Linked DNA regions of Homo sapiens. Changing the gene in region 1 together with any one later gene gives a genetic interaction. Each region holds a gene or a part of one and is shown on either strand. Other genes may lie near its edges.

What was found.
Region 2: changes in MCM3 (region 1) and TIMELESS together harm fitness more than expected from each alone (negative genetic interaction), as found in Homo sapiens cells (one large-scale study listed by BioGRID).
Region 3: changes in MCM3 (region 1) and UBA2 together harm fitness less than expected from each alone (positive genetic interaction), as found in Homo sapiens cells (one large-scale study listed by BioGRID).

What each region holds. Positions count from the first base shown.
Region 1 is NC_000006.12:52,266,770-52,271,913, forward strand, and holds part of MCM3 (DNA replication licensing factor MCM3), read right to left. Parts: intron 2,458-5,144; coding exon 2,317-2,457; intron 1,238-2,316; exon of another isoform or gene 1,200-1,237; coding exon 1,096-1,199; intron 1-1,095. UniProt on the Homo sapiens protein: Acts as a component of the MCM2-7 complex (MCM complex) which is the replicative helicase essential for 'once per cell cycle' DNA replication initiation and elongation in eukaryotic cells.
Region 2 is NC_000012.12:56,438,572-56,443,196, reverse strand, and holds part of TIMELESS (protein timeless homolog), read left to right. Parts: intron 1-4,625. UniProt on the Homo sapiens protein: Plays an important role in the control of DNA replication, maintenance of replication fork stability, maintenance of genome stability throughout normal DNA replication, DNA repair and in the regulation of the circadian clock.
Region 3 is NC_000019.10:34,441,611-34,446,235, reverse strand, and holds part of UBA2 (SUMO-activating enzyme subunit 2), read right to left. Parts: intron 2,393-4,625; coding exon 2,325-2,392; intron 1,237-2,324; coding exon 1,115-1,236; intron 1-1,114. UniProt on the Homo sapiens protein: The heterodimer acts as an E1 ligase for SUMO1, SUMO2, SUMO3, and probably SUMO4. It mediates ATP-dependent activation of SUMO proteins followed by formation of a thioester bond between a SUMO protein and a conserved active site cysteine residue on UBA2/SAE2.

The sequences.
Region 1 (5,144 bases):
TCTAACTACGGAGAAAAGGAAACAGAACCACTAAGTCAAAGTGAAGCACTAGGCTTAGGCCTTTGCAAACTGCTGCTTGTTCCAAACGAGACCAAGTCCCCAGACTAGAACACAAACAGGCGCTGCTTCCCAACGCTCTTTTCCACATCACTCACCCTTATAAATTCAACTATAAGCATGAAGGTTTTTCCCTTAGAATTTTGAAGTATATATTCAAAACCCTCAGTGGTTGGGTTGCTGTTCCTACTATTTAGCATTTCTTCAGTAGAGGGGTCAAAAGCACACAAGAAGGACTCGCTCTCCTTCTCTTTTACCCAGGGTATCTTCTTTTTTTTTTTTTTTTGAGACGGACGGAGTCTCACTCTGTCACCCAGGCTGGAGTGCAGTGGTGTGATCTCCACTCACTGCAAGCTCTGCCTCCTGGGTTCACGCCATTCTCCTGCCTCAGCCTCCCAAGTAGCTGGGACTACAGGTGCCTGCCACCACGCCAGCCTAATTTTTTGTATTTTTAGTAGAGACAGGGTTTCACTGTTAGCCAGGATGGTCTTGATCTCCTGACCTCGTGATCCGCCTGCCTCGGCCTCCCAAAGTGCTGGGATTACAGGCGTGAGCCACCGCGCCCAGCCTACCCAGGTTATCTTCATCCTCAAACCCCGCAGGTCTAGGAACACTCTCCATGAACAACCTGACATCAATAAGCAGCGCTGGTTCCACCTTCTACCCTCTACTTCTCTCCCCAGTCCCACTGGAACTTACTACTTTTTTTTTTTTTTTTTGAGATGGGATCTCTCTCTGTCGCCCAGGCTGGAGTGCAGTGGCACGATCCTGGTTCACTGCAACCTCTGCCTCCCAGGCTCAAGCAATCCTCCGACCCCAGCCTACCGAGCAGCTGGGACCACAAGTGTCCGCCACCACGCCCAGCTAATTTTTCTATTTTTTGTAGAGACAGTTTTGCCATATTTCCCAGGCTGGTCTCAAACTCCTGGACTCAAGTGACCCACCCGCCTCGGCCTCCCAAATTGCTAAGATTACAGGCGTGCACCCCCAACTTCTTGGCCACTAACTTTTTAATCTCATTTGCTTGCCCCACCTTACCTCTTCCTCTTCTGCTCCTGGTCCTCTTGGCTTTTCTCCTCTTCATCTTCTGTCTCTGATTCATCCTCACTTCGCTTCTTACGTTTCTTCTCCTTCTCCAGAACCTAAGACCAAGGCAAGTGTGGCTGGGCTAGAGGGGTCACTGATGCAGGGGAACTGCATCAAGAACTCCCAGTCCCTTCTGCATCATAAGCAGGAAAGACTTCCATGTTTCCAATGGTTTACCTAGCTCCTCTTGTCCCTAAGTCCCAGGACCAGGGGCAGAAGTAGAGACTGCTACCCATCTTTTCAAAATGCTGGGAAGTATGTTAAATGCTGTTTATATAGTAGGTACTCAATAAATGTTTACTGAATAAAGAAACAAATGTCTAGCCCATAATGGTTAAGTGAAAACAATCCATTTCCTTATAAATCAGGTGTCTAATTGAAATCCAAGACAACCCTTAACCTAGCAAAAAGCGAGGAAGAGTTTATCAGACTCACAACTCAACCCTTAACCTAGCAAAAAGCGAGGAAGAGTTTATCAGACTTACAACTCAACCCTTAACCTAGCAAAAAGTGAGGACGAGTTTATCAGACTCACAACTCAACCCTTAACCTAGCAAAAAGCAAGGAAGAGTTTATTAGACTCACAACTCAACCCCAAAAGGCTAACATTCACCAGACTGGGGTGGGAGTGGGCAACTAGGAAAAGGGAGTCTAGGCTTTGAGGCTTGATATCTAAAATGACAGAGGTGCAATGTCACAAACAGAAATAGGGAAACAGGATGAGTGGCAAGTTTGAGAGTTCAACTTTAAACATGAGCTTCTGAGGTGCCAATGGGACATTTGAAGAGACTACCAAGAGGAAAGGTAGAGTGGGACAAGGAAGATTACCAAGGTAGCTCTTTTGAAAACACCTACTTTTTTTTTTAAGATGCAAAGGAAGTAGGGGTAGACAGAGAAGCAGCTAACTGAAAGTACAGCACATCAACTAAACCAGAATCTCTAGGAGCCCTGGAATCAGCATTTTAAAGCTTTCCATCTGATTCTCTGGTGCAGTCAGGGTTGAGAATCACTGAGTGTTTCAGAGGAAAGAGTGAGGCAGACTGATGACTGGAAGACAAATACTGCTTTCTGTTGACAATCCAAATGTAGCCGTCAGCCACGGAAGGCTGGGAAGCCCATGCATCTGTAATATATCCAGGAGATCCTCTCATGCCCAGGCATCTGAATCCTCACCTTCTTAAAGTAAGCATACTGGACCAACTCCACAGCTTCCTCTGCATCCTGCAGGTCCACAGTCTTGCTCATGCGGGCCTTCGCATGGGCTGTGGCCAGTCGAATCAGAGTTTCCAGTGTTCGGGCTGTAACTGGAGATGTCTAGGGAAGAAAAGGGAGGATTGCTTATCCCAAGTCTTTTAGGCATGCCCATCAATCCTACTGCACAGAAAGGGAAATGACACTACCAGAAAAGCCCCAGGAGGCCCAAGCAAAGAATTCAGAGTTCTGTGTTCTCTACAGATACCATATAAAAATGAGAAAGATGATAGCAATGATCAAGGAAATATACACAAGAGTGTTGCAGGAAGGAGGAGCAAGTGAACAGGGAAGATTAGGCATCTAACAACTGGAAAGATAAAAAGCTACAGCGTAGAAAAGAGAAGGGAGAAAAATCATCAGTGATTGCAGGCCTGCAATGCAGCAGGAAGTTTGCCTTTATATACATTCTGTCATTTCACCCTCTTAATAACTTGGAGAAGTTTTATACATGAAGGAAATGGGACTCAAAGACCTTCAAGGAGATTTTCCAAAGTCACACTAAAGGAGGGATAGGAAAGAAGTAATCTGAGGACAAAAACGTAACTTCAGTAAACTCAGTCCGGAGAAGGAGAACTCTGACACATTCCTAACAAATGTTTCTCACAGGGGCCGATGAATACCAAACTGGGATGCCTTTATCTTTTAAAATGCTATTGTCTGAATGGCCTTTCTTGACCTAATCAATCAGAATGAATTGGAAATGAATGAATCAGAAATCTCAGTGTTTAGGACTAGATATGTGTACAAGTTTCAGGTGATTCTGATGTATCCAATCCTCTCATTTTATGGATAAGAAAGCTGACCTGACAGGTGAAAGGATTTGTCCACAGTCCAAAAGCTAGCTGCAGAGCTGGGATCAGACATGAAACTACTTCCAGCCCGGACGTGGTGGCTCACATCTGTAATCCTAGCACTTTGGGAGGCCAAGGCAGGCGGATCACAAGGTCAGGAGCTTGAGACCACCCTGACCAACATGGTGAAACCCCATCTCTATTAAAAATACAAAAGAAAAATTAGCCCGGTGTGGTGGCGCATGCCTGTAATCCCAGCTACTCAGGAGGCTGAGGCAGGAGAATAGCTTGAACCCGGGAGGCAGAGGTTGCAGTGAGCCAAGATCATGCCACTGCACTCCAGCCTGGGCAACAGAGCGAGATTCCATCTCAAAAAAAAAAAAAAAAAGAAAAAAAAAGAAACTACTTCCTTCTGTCACACCTCCCGGGTCTCCCATTATATGACCCCATCACTGACGTATCCTGGTCACTTCTTGTTTCAAGTTTCCTAAATTACCATGTATATCCACAATGACATTCAAAAATAAATACATTCACATTTAAATTCATTCATCAAATCTTGTAATAATTTAGAAAGCTACCGGAGTTTGGAAGTCATACACTCCATGACAAGTTCTAATTCTTAAACCACCTAAAAAGCTGGTGAAATCCTGGCCTGCACTAGCAGACCTAGAGAATCCAAATTCTCTTGGAATTCACTTACAGACCCCACACTAAGACAATTAAAATAGTGTATGACGCTCAGTTCTAGGTTCAATGAGAGGGCCTGGGACACACCAGAAGTTCGCATGTGGAAAGGAACAGTTAAAAAGAAAGTAAGCTGTTTAATGAGGAAGACAGGCGATACACAACCTCCAGAAAACAAGACTAACACCCACAGGTAAAAGTTGTGGGAAAATAGGTTTAAGCTTAATAAATATTCTAAAATTTCAAAACAGTGATGCTCTGCGCATGCTGTCACTGGGGGTATTAAGAAGTCCCGGCCGGGCTCATGCCTATAATCCCAGCACTTTGGAAGGCCGAGATGGGCGGATCACGAGGTCAGGAGATTGAGACCAGCCTGGTCAACACAGTGAAACCCCGTCTCTACTAAAAATACAAAATTAGCCGGGCATGGTGGCACGCACCTGTAGTCCCACCTACCCGGGAGGCGGAGGTTGCAGTGAGCCCAGACCATGCCACTGCACTCCAGCCTGGGTAACACAGCAAGACCGCATCTCAAAAAAAAAGTCCCAGCAGGGATTTGAAAAGACAGAGTGGGTGAGGCTTGAGTAGATGATCTGGGATCATGTCTAATCCAAGAATCTATGTCTATGTAACATAATAAGAGTTCTGGACTTGGGTCTTTCTGCTGTAAAATCCTATGTGAACTACACTGCCCCTAAAAGATTTAGACAAATTTGGGCCGGGCATGGTGGCTCACACCTGTAATCCCAGCACTTTGGGAGGCCAAGCCGGGCGGATCACCTGAGGTAGGAAGTTCCAGAGCAGCCTGACCAACATGGAGAAACCTGGTCTCTATTAAAAACACAAAATTAGCCGGGTGTAGTGGTGCATGCCTGTAATCCCAGCTACTCAGGAGGCTGAGGCAGAACAATCGCTTGAACCAGGGAGGTGGAGATTGCAGTGAGTTGAGATCGCGCCATTGCACTCCAGCCTAGCCAACAAGAGTGAAACTCTGTCTCACCAAAACAAAAACAAAAACAAAACAAAAAAAAGATTTAGACAAATTCATGGACACCTATATTAGGTTACCAGAAATTGCTTTGAATAACCATCATGGTTGCCTGTTAGTCATTTTTTCAAAGTCCAGTCCAAATATCATACTCTCTGGGAATCCTTCCTTGACATTCATACCCCTTCAGGGAAGTCTAAAAGAAATTAACAGTTTATTCGTCTATGCTCAAATAGCCTTTCACGTTCATTCCTTTGTAAGTACCACACTGGGGTAAATAT
Region 2 (4,625 bases), on another chromosome or scaffold:
GCTCCCTGCAAGAAGAAAACTATGGCTCTATTCTGCCTGACCCCCCAGGCAGTCAGACCTTATGGTATCTTTCCTTGTTCCCTGAAAATCGCTGTTGTTCTGTTCTTTCTCAGGGTGCCCTGATTTCATATTGTTCAAACACACGTTTTACAAACAATTTGTACAGTTAATGCAGTGATCACAGGGTCCTGAGATGACATACATTGTCAGTTTATGAAGATGACGGGATTAAGAGATTAAAGACAGGCATAGGAAATTATAAGAGTATTGATTGGGGAAGTGATAAATGTCCATGAAATCTTCATAATTTATGTTCACAGATTGCAGTAAAGACAGGCGTAATAAATTATGAAAGTATTAATTTGGGGAACTAATAAATGTCCATGAAATCTTCACAATTTATGTTCTTCTGCTGTGGCTTCAGCCGGTCTCTCCATTCGGGGTCCCTGACTTCCCGCAACATCATCTATCTTATATCACTATAGAGGGTCGTTTGGTTTTCTCCAGCACATCTGGGCCTAGATTTGAATTGAAGTCTAGGAAGCAGATGGTTGCATTGATCTGAGGTTATGTATGGTCTTTTGCAGGGTGAGTGCACTGAAAGGAAAAGAGATAGAGGCCACACGGGAAAATGGCCAAACTGATGTATATAGTGATACAGTAGTAGGATATGTGTGACCCTGGTTTGATCATTTTGTTTTCTAGCTCAGAAATCTTCAGTGGCTCCCTGGCTTAGGTTCTAAATCTTTGAACTGATGGACAAAGATGAGGTTTTTCCCATAAAGCTGGTTCCAGCTGCTTTTCCATTGCTTTCCTGTTGGACTCATCTATTCATAATGGCTCCCTCTTTGGTTTTGCACTGGCAGTTCTCTGCTTAAATGCCCATCCTATTCCCAGCTGCCTTAATCCTATGCAGCTTTCAAAGGCCCAGTTCTAATCATGCTTCCTCAGACAAAACCTCCTTGACCACTTTAACCTGAAAAGAGTACTAGTTTTTTAGTTTTTTTCAGTATCACGTATTTAGAGCTTGTACTGCCTTATCTTTTACATTGTTTGTTCTATATTTGTGGATTTTATTTCTGCAACTACATTTCTTTTTTTTTTTTTTTTTTTGAGACGGAGTCTCACTCTGTCGCCCAGGCTGGAGTGCAGTGGCACGATCTCAACTCACTGTAACCTCCACCTCCCTGGTTCAAGTGATTCTCCTGCCTCAGCCTCCCGAGGAGCTGGGATTACAGGCACCCGCCACCACACCTGACTAATTTTTTGTTAGTTTTAGTAGAGACGGGGTTTCATCATGTTGGCCAGACTAGTCATGAACTCCTGACTTTGTGATCCACCCGCCTTGGCTTCCCAAAGTGCTGGGATTACAGGCGTGAGCCACCGCGCCTGGCCTCTGCATCTACATTTCTTAAATTTCTTTAGCGCTACCATTGCACCTGCACGCTATCTTTTGCCAGGAAGGTTCTCCCTAAGCATTTAGTAACTGACTATAGAGTCTGACAGATGGAGAGGAAATTAATATTTGGGGCGGGGGAGGGGTTCTGTTTGTTTTGTTTATTTGTCTTTTGAGACAGGGTCTCACTCTGTTACCCAGGCTGGAGTGCAGTGGCACAATTTCAGCTCGTTGCAACTTCAACCTCCTGGGCTCAAGTGATCCTCCTGCCTTAGCCTCCTGGGTAGCTGGGACTAAAGGTGTACATCAGCATGCCCGGCTGATTTTTGTGTTTTATTTTTTGTGGAGACTGGGCTTCGCTATGTTGCCCAGGCTGGTCTCAAACTCCTGGACTCAAGTGATCCTCCCACCTCAACCTCCCAAAGTATTAGTATTACAGGCGTGAGCCACCATGTCCAGCCAGGGATTCTTACTTTGTGCTCAGCACTGGGTAGAGTGCTTAATATCACTGCTTCTCAAACTGTCTTGGTAAAGGACCAGGTAGATTTTTCCCTCAAGCTGTTGCAGATCAGTAGTGTTCTAAAAGCACTTCTGTAAAATAAAATTACTAGAAAAATAACATTTAAAAAGACATAGAGAATACAGGCTTTTTATTATTATCATCATTAGATTCAACAAACATTGGCTGGGTGCAGTGGCTCATGCCCGTAATCCCAGCACTTTGGGAGGCCGAGGTGGGTGGATCACTTGAGGCCAGGAGTTCAGCAGCCTAGGCAACATGGCGAAACCCCATCTCAACTACAAAACACAAAAAAATTAGCCTGGCATGGTGGCACAGGCCTGTAATCCCAGCTACTTGGGAGGCTGAGGCACGATAATAGTTTGAACCCGGGAGGCAGAGGTTACAGTGAGCCAAGATCACGCCACTGCATTCCAGCCTGGGTGACAGAGGGAGACCCTGTCTCAAAACAAAACTGTAAACTGCCTGTCAAATTGCCCTAAGATGTTCTAAGTGCTAATGCTTTCTTTCTGTACTTACCTTGATGCAGACTGCTAATAGTTTGTGGATTGGCAGTGGTCTGAAGACCAAGGTTTGAGTAGCATTGCTTTACATGATCTCATTTACACTTCCCTAATATCTTGTGAGGGTGGGTATTATTATTATTTCCTCAGTATACTGATAAGGAAAGAGATTTAGTTAAGCCACCTGCTCAAGTTCACCAGTTTAGTACCAGACAGAATTGGAATTCAAGTGCTAGATGCCATTTTGTTCATACTACTGGGTCTCAAAGAGGATCCTTGGAGCAGAGTTGGTTTGGGGCAGGTAGAGTGTTTTGTTTCGTCTTCAAAAAGTAAGTTTATTTGGTCGGGCGCAGTGGCTCATGCCTGGTATCCCAGCACTTTGGGAGGCCCAGGTGGGCAGATCATGAGGTCAGGAGTTTGAGACCAGCCTGGCCAATATGGTGAAACCCCATCTCTACTAAAAATACAAAAATTAGCTGGGCATGGTGGCGCGTGCCTGTAGTCCCAGCTACTTGGGAAGCTGAGGCAGAAGAGTTGCTTGAATCCAGGAGGTGGCGGTTGCAGTGAGCTGAGATCGTGCCACTGCACTCCAGCCTGGGCGACAGAGCAAGACTCTGTCTCAAAAAAAAAAAAAAAAAAAAAAAGGTTAATTTGAATTGCAAATACATTTAATATTTTATCTGTTGTTTTCTTTTGGTTCTTGCATTTTAATGCCTCCAAGTATTGATTTCAGATGCATATTGCTTCATCTGAACTGCTTGATACTTAGTTGAGTAGGAAAAGTAACTAACATCCCTTTTAAATGTCCAGTTCCATTGGCTCTGTGGTGTTTGACAAAGTTCTCACCTGGTCTATGATGAAATGTGAAAATAAAGTCAATGTAATGAATTTTTTCATGAAGTCATATTTATTAAATTTGAAGGACAGTATTTTATCCTGAGATTTTTGTCTGTAGTTTTTTTGGTGTTAAAATGGTAGAAACAGAATGCGTATAGTAATTGTGTGGAGTGTTGTTTATAACGGCTGTTTGAGATATAATTCATATACTGTAAAATTCACCCTTTTAAAGTGTACAATTCAGGCTAGGTGTGGTGGTTCACACCTGTAATCTCAGCACTTTGGGAGGCCAAGGCAGGAGGATTGCTTGAGGCCAGTCAGGAGTTTGAGACCAGTGTGGGCAACATAGGGAGGTACCAGCTCTACACAAATTTAAAAATTAGCCAGATGTGGTATTGAATGCCTGTGGTCCCAGCTGCTTGGGAGGCTGAGGTGGGAGGATTGCTTGGGCCAAGGAGTTGAGGCTATAGCGAGTCATGATTGATCTGTACTCCAACCTGGGCTGGTCAACAGAGTGAGACCCTGTCTCAAAAGAAAAAAAAAAAAAAAGAAAACCCCTGTACAATTCTGTGATTTTTAGTATATTCAGAGAGTTGTACAACCATTTCTGCCCACCTCAGCCTCCTAAAGTGCTGGGATTACAGGCGTGAGCCACTGTGCCCATATCAGCCTATTGCATTTGCCTATTCTGGACATTTCATATAAATTCCATCATACAATATATGACCTTTTGTGTTTGGCTTCTTTTTTTTTTTTTTTTTTTTTTTTTTTTTGAGAAGGAGTTTTCACTCTTGGTGCCCAAGCTGGAGTGCAGTGGCACGATTTGGGCTCACTGCTACCTCCACCTCCAGGGCTCAAGCGATTCTCCTGCCTCAGCCTCCCGAGTAGCTGGGATTACAGGCGCCCGCCACCATGCCCAGCTAATTTTTTTGTATTTTTAGTAGAGACAGGGTTTCACCATGTTGGCCAGGCTGGTCTCAACTCCTGACCTCAGGGTGATCTGCCCACCTTGGCCTCCAAAAGTGCTGGGATTACAGGTGTGAGCCACTGCACCCGGCTGTGTTTGGCTTCTTTCACTGAACATGTTTTCAAGTTTCATCTACTTCATGGCATGTATCAGTCAGTATTCCATTCCTTTTTTTTTTTTTTTTTTTTTTTTTTTTGAGACAGAGCTTTGCTCTGTCATCTAGGCTGGAGTGCGGTGGCGCAATATCAGCCCATTGCAGCCTCCACCTCCCAGGCTCAAGTAATTCTCCCACCTCAGCTTCTCTAGTAGCTAGGACCACAAGCACACACCACCACACTCGGATAATTTCATTTTTTAAATTTTTTGTAGAGACGAGGTCTCACTATATTGCCCAAACTGGTC
Region 3 (4,625 bases), on another chromosome or scaffold:
CTGAGGCAGTTTGATAAGAGCTGAGAAAGTTTTAAGCTCTGTGATAAACTTGCTAGGGGCTAGGCTCAGTGGTTCATGCCTGTAATCCCAGCACTTAGGGAGGCAGAGGCTGGAGGATCGCTTGAACCCAGGAGTTTGAGACTTGAAACCAGGAGTTTGAGATCTGCCTGGGCAACATGGTGAGACCCCATTCTCCACAAAAAGGAAAAAAAGAGTCAAAAAAACCCCACACACGTACAACTTGCTAGGGAGTCAAGACAGAACAAAAAAACTTTTAAAACACGGACCTACGGGTCTAGATGAACAATAATTAGGTAGACCCAATAAAAACAATTTCACAGATTTCTCTAGAAATATTTAACAGGCAAATAGTATATACTACTGATGAAGAGGGATTTCACCAAGAAAAAGGGGCTTATGGGGTTCAAGGGCAATTTAGGACACATGTCAGTCAAACTGCTAATAGCAGATATGAGCAAGAAATAAAAGTGAACATGAAGCCAGGAGCAGTGGCTCACGCCTATAATCCCATCACTTTGGGAAGCCAAGGTGGGCAGATCACTTGCAGTCAGGAGTTCATGACCTACCTGGCCAACATGGTGAGACCCCGCTTCTACTAAAAATACAAAATTAGCCAGGCCTGATGGTACACACCTGTAATCCCAGCTACTCGGAAGGCTGAGGCAGGAGAATCACTTGAACCCAGGAGGCGGGGCTGCAGTGAGCCGAGATCGTGCCACTGCACTCCAGCCTGGGCGACAAGAGTGAGACTCCATCTCAAAAAAAAAAAAAAAAAAAAAGTGAAGATGAGAAGCAGCAGGAAAACGAAGAAGTTCTGTAAAAAGTGAGAGAAGGAAAGACAACCAAGAAGGTATACAAGCCACCTCTCATTTTACCTCCTATTTAGATGTTATACTGATAGATTTAGTGTAGATGGTAACATTTTAAAACTTGCATATCCTGACTGCATCAATCATTTTATTAGGACATCACAAGGCATATACATAGAAGCTTAATTCAATTTTATGGACTATTTTAAAACAAGCAGAACTAGAACAATACATCTATGCACAACAATACATCTATCCATGATTATAAAAAAAGTAAATCTAACCTTGGTAAAAAGTTTAACTGGATCATATCCAGTTGATTTAGCCCATTCCTTAGTAGAAATACGTTTAATGTCACCATCTTCATTAGATGCTCTAGCTCTGGCTTCGGCTTCCGTTGGTTCCCCTATAAAACGATCATTATTTTATTTTCAACCGTAATAAATGTAGAACTGAACTCTTTTCACTCACCTTTGGGAATAAAAAGAAAGTCACTCATGGAAATCCCCAAATGCAACACATTCTGAGTTCAAGGAATAAGAAAATAACACATTCATCAGCATCTTTTTGTATCCCAGTTTCTTTCTTTCTTGTTTTTGGAGACAAAGTCTCACTCTGTTGCCCAGGCTGGAGTGCAGTGTTAAGATCTCGGCTCACTGTAGCTTCTACCTCTTGGGCTCAAGCCATCTTCCCGTCTCAACCTCACAAGTAGTTGGGACTACAGGTATGCACCACCATGCCTGGCTAATTTTTATATTTTTTGTAGAGACAGGGTTTTGCCATGTTGGCCAGGCTGGTCTCAAACTCCTGACCTCATGCAATCCAGCTGCTTCAGCCTCCCAAAATGCTGGGACTACGGGCGTGAGCCACCTTGCCTGGCCTGTTGTAACTTAGTTTCTGAAAGCTACACATATAACAGTTCAAAGCACAGACCAGTCATGAGATCTAGGAACAACTCGCAGCTCTATTTACTAGACTTGTGAAATTTCTCTTAACCTTGATTTCCTCATCAGTAAAACGGAATCATATTTTTTTTGTAAAACATTGTTTTGGATAGGCACGGTTGCTTACGCCTGTCCCAGCACTTTGGGAGGCCAAGGCGGGTGGATCACCTCAGGTCAAGAGTTCGAGACCAGCCTGGCTAACATGGTGAAACCCTGTCTCTACTAAATATACAAAAATTAGCTGGGCGCGGTGGCAGGTGCCTGTAATCCCAGCTACTCAGGAGCCTGAGGCAGGAGAATCATTTGAACCCAGAAGGCGGAGGTTGCAGTGAGCCGAGATTATACCATTGTACTCCAGCCTGGGCAATAAGAGAGAAACTCCACCTCTGAGACAAAAAAAAAAAAAAAAAAAAAAAACAAAAAAAAAACACATGTTAAACACACATTACCTAGCACATATAGCAATTTTTTTCCCTTAAGCTACCAAAATTAAATCAACAAAATAAAGATAATAGTATCTGATAAAACATATGCCAAATAATTTACTCACAGGCAGCTTCAGGGTCAGCTCTGTCAGGAGATACTTCTTGATCAGCATCTTCTTCCCCAAACAACTGGCTATAATTTAAGAATAGTAAATACTTCTGTATAACAAAGCATTCTAAACAAACATGTAATTTAGAATATTCCAAATATTTAGCAGAGATAAAGACTGAACAACTGGCTGGGCGCAGTGGCTCACACCTTTAATCCCAACATTTTGGGAGGCTGAGGCAGGCAGATCACAAAGTCAGGAGTTCGAGACCAGCCTGACCAACATGGTGAAACCTCGTCTCTACCAAAAATATAAAAATTAGCCAGGCGTGGTAGCGCACGCCTGTAATCCCAGCTACTCGGGAAGCTGAGGCAGGAGAATCGCTTGAACCCAGGAGATGGAGGTTGCAGTGAGCCGAGACTGCACAACTGCACTCCGGCCTGGGCAACAGAGCAAGACTCCGTCTCAAAAAAAAAAAAAAAAAAGTGAATAACGGATAAATGACTATAAACTTAAAAGTTTAACACAATGTGCTTGGACAGCTTGCATCCCAATTTCAACAGCAATGTAAGCAAGGTTAAATTTTAGCAGACCTACATCCATTCCTATCAGCGAGGCTCTGCACATTTCAATGTTAAAACCTCTGCTCAAGAAACAGGTGAGTGGTTTTCACTTACAACCTGGATAACATTCTAACACCAGAATAATGTTTGTGTTTACACCTGCAGCTACCTGTTCAACAAACATTATTATATACCTCAGGTGCAGAGTCCCCATCTAGGGGATAGAAATTCAGCAATGAACAAGATTAACTTTTTTTCATGGTAGAATGGCTCTTTACTGCTGAACAGAGTGTTAACAAACAATTTGAAAGTATTAAGCTGAGATTCTCTTTTATTAATAAAGTTATCCTAAAAACTGTTTAATAACTCATGGATATAAAAGTTTCCAGTATTTCCTCAAGTATATGATTAATGAAAGTTATCTTACAGAAATCCTTTGTACAACCCCCCACCCAACTATAATTTCAAAGCTCTGATAGTCACTCCCAACAATGGCATGTTAACACTTCCTAAAATTAACGCTTTGCCAACTAGTGAGTGCAAAATAGTAGACAGCCGCTAATTTAAAATGGTCCACCAATGATTTTTCACCTTTACAACAGGTTTATTGAGGTTATATTAAAATGCATTTTTGGCTGGGCGTGGTGGCTCACATGTGTAATCCCAACACTTTGGGAGGCCGAGGCGGGTGGATCAACCGAAGTCAGGAGTTTGAGACCAGCCTGGCCAACAAGGTGAAACCCTGTATCTACTAAAATACAAATATTAGCTGGGCGTGGTGGCAGACGCCTGTAATCCCAGCCACTCGAGAGGCTGAGCAGGAGAATCGCTTGAACCCAGGAGGCAGAGATTGCAGTTGCACTGCACTCCAGCCTGGGCAACAAGAGCGAAACTCCATCTCAAAAAAACAACAACAAAAAAAGCATCATTTTTTACTTAATGGTATTTTTTATTTATGATGAGTTTATCGGGAAGTATCTGAGAAGCATCTGTAGCTTACTATGGTCTTATACTTAATTTTCCAAGTAAGTCTTATGATTAAAACATAACTTGCTTATTGCTTATTTAGGTTTCCCTTCGAGTGAAAAATGCTGCTCATATTAATTTTGCCAGATTATCTTTTTTGTGTGTGTGACAGGGTCTTACTGTCCCCAAGGCTAGTGTGCAGTGGTGTGATCACAGCTCACTGCAGCCTCGACCTCCTAGGCTCAAGTGATCCTCTCACCTCAGCCTCCCAAGTAGCTGGGACCACAGGCATGTGCCACCATGCCTTGCTAATTTTTAAATTTTTTGTAGTGATGGGGTTTCACTATGTTGCCCACACTGCTCTCAAACTGCTGGGCTCAAGCAATCCTCCTGCCTTGGCCTCCTAAAGAGCCGGGATTACAGGTGTGTGTCACTGCACCTGGCCACATTATCTTTTTTTTTTTTTTGTCTTTTTCTGAGACACAGTCTCGCTCTGTCCCCCAGGTTGGAGTGCAGTAGCATGATCTCCATTCACTTCAACCTCCGCCTCCCAGGTTCAAGCGGCTCTCATGGCTCAGCCTCCCGAGTAGGTGGGACTACAGGCGTGTGCCACCACACCCCACTAATTTTTGTATTTTTAGTAGAGACAGGGTTTCGCCATGTTGCCCAGGCAGTTCTCAAACTCCTGGCCTCAAGTGATTCACCCACCTCAGCCTCCCAAAGAAAAAAAATGTTTGCCAAATAAATAAAGCTTCCAAGTGTAGTTTTTGTGAACATTTATCAAGTT